2 separate regions of the Homo sapiens genome follow, and region 1 is linked to region 2. Evidence: fine-mapped expression QTL. A gene starts in region 2. The other region holds a variant in brackets. All regions are shown on one strand. Distances are between the middles of the regions.

The links. PIP is the estimated chance that this variant, and not a neighbour inherited with it, causes the effect.
Region 1: its variant is the best candidate, but not a certain one, in a credible set for the expression of CA6 in CD4 T cells (BLUEPRINT, PIP 0.54).

Annotation. Positions count from the first base shown.
Region 1 is chr1:8,964,178-8,968,561 of GRCh38, reverse strand. It overlaps CA6 (carbonic anhydrase 6), which reads right to left. Exons shown (of 8, transcript NM_001215.4): 6 at 746-903. Among named protein-coding and RNA genes, the nearest start is that of CA6, 21 kb to the right of the region's middle. The variant TG/G (reference allele first, on the strand shown) is at 2,675.
Region 2 is chr1:8,943,543-8,947,926 of GRCh38, reverse strand. CA6 (carbonic anhydrase 6) reads right to left here and starts at 2,059. Exons shown (of 8, transcript NM_001215.4): 1 at 1,962-2,059. The coding sequence starts at 2,040.

The DNA.
Region 1 (4,384 bases), 21 kb before region 2:
ACTAACTGAAGTCTTTGTAGGTCTGATTCTGCTGGTTCTCATCTATAATGTCTTTTTTTCTCATATGTTTTGTATTTTTTTTTCTTAATTGAGCTAATTTCAAGTAACTTTATTTGTGAAAATTCTTCTAGGTCTGGATTTAAGGTCATTTTCCCAGAGATAATTTACCATTTGCTTTTGTCAGGTGTCTGGGGGCACTTCTAGCCTGACTGGCAACATTTTGGAGTGTGAGTGTCCTTGAGCAGGGGTCTTTTCCACCTTTTTCTAAGGAAATGAAAAGTTTAAGAAAAGGAGATGGCCGGGTGCAGTGGCTCACACCTGTAATCCCAGCACTTTGGGAGGCTGAGACAGGCAGACTGCTTGAACCTGGGAGTTTGAGACCTGCCTGGGCAACATAATAAAACCCTGTCCCTACTAAAAATAAAAACTAGCCGGGCGTGGTGGCACACTCCTGGAGTCCCAGCTACTCGGGAGGCTGAGGCAGGAGAATTGCTTGAACCTGGGAGGCGGAGGTTGCAGTGAGCTGAGATCGTGCCACTGCACTCCAGCCCAGGTGACAGAGCGAGACTCTGTCTCACAAAAAAAAAAAAAAAAAAAAGGTTGGCTAGACGAGGCACAGTAGCCCTGCACACAGAAAATACTGTAGGACCCCTTAGTTGTTGACGTTCGTTGAGATGCTGGGGAGAACCCTTGTTAACCAGGCAATCGAATGGGAAGACTTCGGCAAAGTGATACCATACATTACCTGTGTCCTGGAGAGCTTGACAAAATCTGCCAGCACAAACCAGTGGACGTTCTCAGTGCAGGGAGGCGTGGTGAGTGAGCCATGGTAGGTGTAGTAGTGCTGGAGGTTCCTGGGCAGCATGTCCTGAACGTCAAGGCCAGTCAGGGTTGTTCTTTGTCCTGACCAAGAAGACAGAAGGTAACAGAATGTCAGGGACCAGCGCTGCCCCTCGGGAGGACAGCTCAGGCCCAGGCCTCGCCAGGTTCCAATCTCTTGAGTTCAGCAGAACATAGAAGCTGATGATTAAGAAACAATTTCCCAGTTTACTTCTTCCTGGAAGGGATTGAGAGGAGAGACTTTGGGGATAGACGCACTCAGACACCTGCTCCTGGCTGAGTGCTCTTGGCCGGGTGCTCACCCTGCGGCCATTTTCTCATCTGTAGAAAGGGAATAATCAGCAGGATTGTTGTGAGGGTAAGAAGGAATAACGTCTGGAAAGCAGCTGGCATTGAACCACTACATAGGGAAGTACTCCTAAGTGTAACTGCTGCGGTCACCATTATCATGGCTAGGCAGAGGACACATTTTATGATCAATGAAAGAAATAAATATGGCCCCTGGAGACTTCTGGGTAAGTGCCCTTGAAGAAAGACCAAAATGCCTTGGTTTGGGCTCATTGAGAAGTGGGTAGACAACAGTTGTAAATGCAGAATCAGGCCAGGCGCAGTGGCTCACGCTTGTAATCTCAACACTCTGGGAGGCCAAGGCGGGAGGATTGCTTGGGGCCAAGAGTTCAAGACCAGCCTGGGCAACACAGGGAGGCCCCGTCTCTACAATAAGTTGTTTTTTTTATTATTTTTTTAAATAATAAATGCAGAATCAGAACCAAGCCAGGGTCCAGGTACAGGCATTTGGTCCTGAGCTCTTCCTGCCACAACCGCTGGAAACCAAGCCCAGCCACAGGTGGGGCGTAGGGTGGGGCCACTTCCACCAGGCCTGCAAAACTCCTGCAGCAGCCACACCTGCTCCTGCTCTAGAGAGGTCCTTGTTTCATTCATGTCAACAACACTGAGCCCCTGAGCTCAGCACAAGACTCTCAAGGCAACACAGGATTGAGTTGGATTTTGCTTCACTTTCCCTGAGCACTTCTGCGCTTCTTAAAGGCAGAGAACATAGTTTTGATACATACGTAGATAGGCCTGTTCAACCAAGGCCACAATGTCTCAGAGTGCATAAGCCCATGAGTAGGCAAAAGAGTTCTAAGTTTGATTATTATTGGAAGATTTCAAGATATAACCTCCAAAAGGGCTCTGTGGTAGAGATTTATTTTTGTAACTCTAATATATTTAAGTGAAAGTCAAGAATTCCAGAATCATGATGCAGCCACCACGGAAAATGGTATAATAGTTCCTCAAAAAATAAACATACGGCCAGGTATGGTGGCTCACACCTGTAATCCCAGCACTTTGGGAGGCCGAGGCGGGTGGATCACCTGAGGTCAGGAGTTTGAGACCAGCCTGGCCAACATGATGAAACCCCGTCTCTACTAAAAATACAAAAATTAGCTGGGCATGGTGGCACGTGCCTGTAATCCCAGCTACTCGGGAGGCTGAGGCAGGAGAAGCGCTTGAACTTGGGAGGCGGAGGTTGCAGTGAGCCGAGATCAAGGCACTGCACTCCCGCCCCAGCGAGACTCTGTCTCAAAAAACAAAAAAAAATTAAAATTAAAAAAACATAGATTACTATGTGACCCAGCAATTCTACTCCTATCTACCCAAAAGAAATGAAAGCAGGGACTCAAAGAGATACTTGTACACCTATATTCATAGCAGCGTTACCTCACAATAGCCAAAAGGTAGAAGCCACCAAAATGTTCACCAGTAGATAAATGGATACACAAAATATCATATATCCACACAATGGAATATACTTCAGCCTTTTTTTTTTTTT[TG/G]AAGCAGAGTCTCACTCTGTCACCCAGACTGGAGTGCAGTGGCACAATCTCAGCTCACTGCAACCTCTGCCTCCCGGGTTCAAGCGATTCTCCCGCCTCAGCCTCCTGAGTAGCTGGGAATACAGGCACCCTCCATAACACCTGGCTAATTTTGTATTTTTAGTAGGGACGGGGTTTCACCATGTTGGCCAGGCTGATCTCAAACTCCTGACCTCAAGTGCTCTGCCAGCCTTGGCCTCCCAAAGTACTGGAATTACAGGCGTGAGTCACCTCGCCCAGCCACTTCAGCCTTTAAAAGGAATGAAATTCTGATAACATGCTACAATGTGGGCAAACCTAAAAGACATTATGCTAAGTGAAATAATCCAGACCAAAAAAAAAGACAAATACTGTTTGATTCTACTTATATGAGGTACCTAGAATAGTCAAATTCTTAGAGACAGAAACTGTGGTTACCAGAAGCTGGAAGGGGAGATGGGGAGTAACTGTTGAATGGGTACAGAGTTTCAGTTTAGGAAGACGAAAAAAAGTTCCGGCAATGGAGCGGGGTGATGGTTGCATCATACTGTGAATGTTCTTAATGCTACTGAACTGTACATTTAAAATGGTTTAAGGGGTAAGTTTGTTGTTGTTGTCGTTGTTTGAGATGTTGTTGCGCTCTGTCGTCCAGGCTGGAGTGCAGCGACACAATCTCAGCTCACTACAACCTCCACCTCCCGGGTTTAAGCGATTCTCCTGCCTCAGCCTTCCGAGTAACTGGGATTACAGGCGTGCACCACCATGCCTGGCTAATTTTTGTATTTTTAGTAGAGACGGGGTTCAACCATGTTGGCCACACTGGTCTCAAACTCCTGACCTCAGGTGATCAGCCCGCCTCCGCCTCCCAAAGTGAGGGGATTACAGGTGTGAGCCACCGCACCCAGCCTTAAGTGGTAAGTTTTAATTCAGGCTGTGGGACTGCGTGGAGTCACTGAGATGAGACAGAGCCTGACTCCACCCAACATTTAGGGCAGGAGCCAGAAAGAGAGTGAGAGGGCAGAGCTGGGGCGCGCCAGACCACCCTTTGAAGGTAAACTAAGACGAGAAGAAGAGTGGCCCATAGATCTGACCGTCACTCCGGCTCCGTGGAGCATTGGGGCCAGCTCAGGGTGGGGTGGGTGAGAATGGAGAACAGGACTATTCTATGACCTTTTCAAGGGGAGCCAGAGAACTGGGGGAAGCTGGGGAATGGTAAGGTCAGGAGATAACGTTTGTTTGCTTGTGTTTGGAGGTGGGAGGAATTAGGGCAGATGTGTGTGCTGAGCAGGAGGCTTTAATAAAGAGTAAGACATCAACGATGCAGACCGGGCACGGTGGCTCATGCGTGTAATCCCAGCACTTTGGGAGGCCGAGGCGGGTAGATCACAAGGTCAGGAGATCGAGACCATCCTGGCCAACATGGTGAAACCCTGTCTCTACTAAAATACAAAAAATTGGCCAGGCATGGTGGTGTGTGCCTGTAATTCCAACTACTCAGGGGGCTGAGGCAGGGGAATCACTTCAACCCGGGAGGCGGAGGTTGTAGTGAGCTGAGATCATGCCACTGCACTCCAGCCTGGTGACAGAGCAAGACTCCATCTCCAAAAAGAAAAAAGAGAGAGAGAGAGAGAAATCAACGATGCAGAAGACCAGGGAGAGAATAGCAGGAAAGGAGGCCCTGAGCATGGGAG
Region 2 (4,384 bases):
GTTGCGGTGAGCCGAGATCGCGCCACTGCACTCCAGCCTGGGCAACGAGAGTGAAACTCTCAAAAAAAAAAAAAAAGGTGTCTGTACTAGGGCCCTCACCGCTTTTTGGTTTGTAATCAAGGCAATTGGCCTGGAGCACAACGCCTTCTCAGAGCAAGATGCTTTGGCCCAGGGCACTGTCAATACTGGAACATCTCTCAGGTTTCCCTGGAAGGCATTTACAAAAGCTACTCTCAAGTTCTCCTGGAGCCCCTAGTAGTTTCCCAGGAAGCCCACTGTCTCAGAGGCTGGGCAGAGCCTGGGAAGGACAAGGACTTCATTGTCTGAATTCTCTCTTCCTTCACCTCTGAACCACCTGCCTGCACTGCTTGGCCAAGTGAAGCAGAATGCCCCAGGCTTCCGAGGCACTGCCATGTGTAAGATCACTGTCCTCAGGAACAGAGCGGTTGTTCAGAGCTGGCTGGACTTTCTGAACCTCCCAGGATGTCCCTAATTCCGTTGCCCTTGACTTAACAGATCATCCCGTTCACCCTGAAGGAATGCTTCCGGAGCAGCTGAACTGGGGCAGACTCTGCAGGAAGCAGATGTTTGTCTCACTTCCTGCATCAGCCAGCGGCCACCAGCCTCCTCATGGGCCCCAATCCATGGTCCCGTATGGAAAGAAGGGGGATGCGGGAAGAAGCTCTCCTCACTGCCCCTGGAAAGGGCTGTTTAGTGTCCACAAAGTCCACAGACACGGCCTTCTAGCTTTGGCTCACATGTGGACCAGAACCCATGTTGAATGCCAGGATTTTACATTTCACATTTTAAAAGTCTGGTTTGGGGCCTGGCGCGGTGGCTCACGCCTGTAATCCCAGCACTTTGGGAGGCTAAGGTGGGCGGATCACTTGAGGTCAGAAGTTTGAGAACAGCCTGGCCAACGTGGTAAAACCCCATCTCCACTAAAAATACAAAAGTTAGCCAGGCATGGTGATGAGTGCCTGTAATCCCAGCTACTTGGGAGGCTAAGACATGAGAATCGCTTGAAACCAGGAGGCAGAGGTTGCAGTAAGCCGAGATGGCACCACTGAACTCCAGCCTGGGCAACAGAGCAAGACTCTGTCTCAAAAAAAAAAAAAAAACAAAAAAAAAAACACCTCTCATTTTGGCAGCCCACAGATCAAAGGGAACTGGGTCCTTATGTCAAGATGTTCTGGGTAAACTGCCTACCATGAAATTTCCAAGAAAGAAGGTCTCGCAAACCCCACAGCACCTTCCGTGAGGTTACCGAGAGTCTTTTCTAAGAACTTTGTTTTCCACTTACACGGACCAACAAAGCAAATGGTTTTACAAATAGAAGCAGTGAGTGTGCTTTTGAACCAGCCAACACTGTGGATGGAAAAAAATTTAAAGCAAAAAGCCTGTAAGTAAATCAGGAGTTTGTGAAGGGGAAAGCTATTTCCTTCTTTTCCTTATTTGAAGTTTAAGTTCAGCTTATTCTCCATACCTTCTGAGACACTGAAAAGGTAACATCTGAAGCCACAATGAGCAGACCCCCAACATATGGCAAGTGGGCTGCCTGGCCATCCTGTGAAATGCCCTAAAGGAGGACTCTTGGCCGGGCGCAATGGCTCATGCCTGTAATCCCAGCACTTTGGGAGATGGGCAGATCACCTAAGGTCAGGAGTTCGAGACCAGCCTGGACAACATGGTGAAACCCTGTCTCTACTAAAAATACAAAAATTAGCCAGGCATGGTGGCAGGCACCTGTAATCCCAGGTACTCGGGAGGCTAAGGCAGCAGAATCACTTGAACCCGGGAGGCGGAGGTTGCAGTGAGCCAACATCACACTACTGTACTCAAGCCTGGGCAACAGAGCAAGACTTTGTCTAAAAAAAAAAAAAAGAAGAAGAAGAAGGGCACTTGTCCTGTTGTAAGGGTGTGAGGGTAACTGGGGGAGCATGCAGAAGCTAGGGGCTCACCTGAGTAGGTCCAGTCAGACACATGCTGGGCCTGGCCACCCAGCAGGAACAGGGACAGCAGAAGCACCAGGGCCCTCATGGTGCTGCACATCTGTAATGAAGACTGATTCCGGCGAAGCTCTTCTTTTAAAGGCTCAGAAACTGTAAATAACAATTTACAATTGATCTGCCCAGCTGGCTAAACCACCCTTTGCTGCACCCACTAAAACAATAACACCCTCCCCATAACAGCACTTCTGGCTCCGTGCATTGCGCCAGGCAGCCCCAGCACCTGCCTGATCTCCTCCCACGTCAATTTCATATCCGGTCAGTCCATGGGTTTGGTTGTTCAGTGTCTTAGGAACACCTGAAGAGCCACACAGTGCAGCCATTGTGGACAGGTGACCGCGGAAATGGGAAAAGGCCCAAGGCAGGGAGAAGCAGGATGAAAGACTTTCCTGGACGTCGGACTTCCCATGCTCTTTCTCCTGACATTAGAGATCTGGGGACTGCTGATGGGATCACCACTGCCTGCAAACCCTGCCCATCTCAGTCATGGACACAAGCCACCGCTGCAGACATGTGGCTGCCCTCAGCCAGGCATCCAGGGAGGTGGCCTGGCCTCCATGTTTGGACATTTCACGGTCCTCTCCTTAAACCAGTGGTTGATCCTGGGTCCCAGCTCATGAGCCACATTCCAATGTGTGCCTTTATGCCATTCAAGCTGGTGTGGGCGTCTGCATTTCTACATGGATTTGTTCTGACACCTGCAGGGCTCTTGGGCACACCTAAGCCAATCAGCCAATTGCCCTCGCAGGATCCATGGATTACCTAATCCTGTGTATTCACTTGGCTAGACAGTCCCTGAAATTAGCTGAAGGAGAAACTTTTGAGTTTATGCCTGCTGACAGGCCAGCATTTCCCATGCCCTTCCACAAGGTCAAACACAAAGGGTAGCCGGAGCTCCTGCGGGGGGGCTACCATGCTGCCGGACACAAAGGGCCACCCCTGCCTTGTTATGGGGAGCTGAACCCCCTCCTGGCCTAGCTTAACTCATTGTCCACTTGGTCCTGGAATGGCAAACGTCAGCAGGCCTTCACAACAAGGATGTTAGCGGTGAACGTAGGCCTCCCGAATACTTCTAAGACTCCCCACTGTCATTTAATAGGGAACATCAGCTGCTGCAAAGAACTTGCTGGAAACTTCCATTTCTAAAGCTCAAGAGCTGAAAGAATCTCAGAGAGAGAGCAAAGCATGTTCAAGGACAAGGATTCTGAAACTAGACAGGATCTGTGCCACCTGCTAACTGTGTGACCATGGGCAACTCAGCGCTCTGTGCCTCAGCTTTCCTTCCTTTTCTTTTTTCTCTTTCTTTCTTCCTTTCTCTCTTTCTTTTCTTTCTCTCTTTCTCTCTTTCTTTCTTTTTTGAGACAGGGTCTCTCTCTGTCACCAGGCTGGAGTGCAATGATACGATTTCAGCTCACTTCTCTTGGACTCAAGCAATCCTCCTGCCTCAGCTTCCCAAGTAGCTGGGACCACAGTCGCATGCCACTACGCCCTGCTAATTTTTGTACTTTTTGTAGATACAGGTTTTCACCATGTTGCTTAGGCTGGCCTCAAACTCCTGGACTCAAGCGATTCTCCCGCCTCGTGCTCCCAAAGTGCTGGGATTACAGGCGTGAGCCGCCGCACCTGGCCGCCTCCTTTCTTTAAAAGGAGTTAGTGATAGCACCTCCTTTGTGGGGATTCGGCAATAAATGTGCCTGCAGTAGTTGGAGCAGTGCCTGGTGTGTAGCAAATGGCATTAGCATCTATTCAGACCCCTCATTTTATAGGAAAAGGAAGTGATTTATCATTGCCACCCAGCTGGTTAGTGAGGGAACTGGAGGAAAAATGCTTCAATCTCCAGCTTATGGACCATTTCTTTGCAAAAATGAGAAACCTACTCTTCTGTCCTTGCTAAACCAGTGACGCCCACCTGCTGACTCCCAGCCCTGCGGAAAGGGCCACCTTGTAAATCACAAGGCCCCACCTCTGCTGAGGAGACCAAGACCCTTTACAAGCCCAGGCAGGACCCCTGACATCAAACTGGCAGGAAAACACAAACTCAGTCATCTGAATTTTTTCTTGGGAATCTGAATTGGGAGACCCAGAAAGAATCAGGGAGCTGCAGGCAGGCAGAGACTAAAATGTCAGGCTGTCACGGAAGCCTGGGAGGACTGGATGAGCCCAGGCGAGGGGAACTGGAGCAGGAAGGAGCTCAGAGAAAGCCTGGGCCAAGGGGGAGGGGAAGACTGCCCAAAGAGGGGCCCTGGAGAGTCAGAGAGAGGAGTGCTTGCGGGAGAGCACAGTGAAATGCAGAGGGCCCACCACTCCTGGCAGCTCCCAGCCCCACGGGTCTCACTGCCCTGCGGTGAGCATTTGGGGCTTCCCAGGAGAGCTCT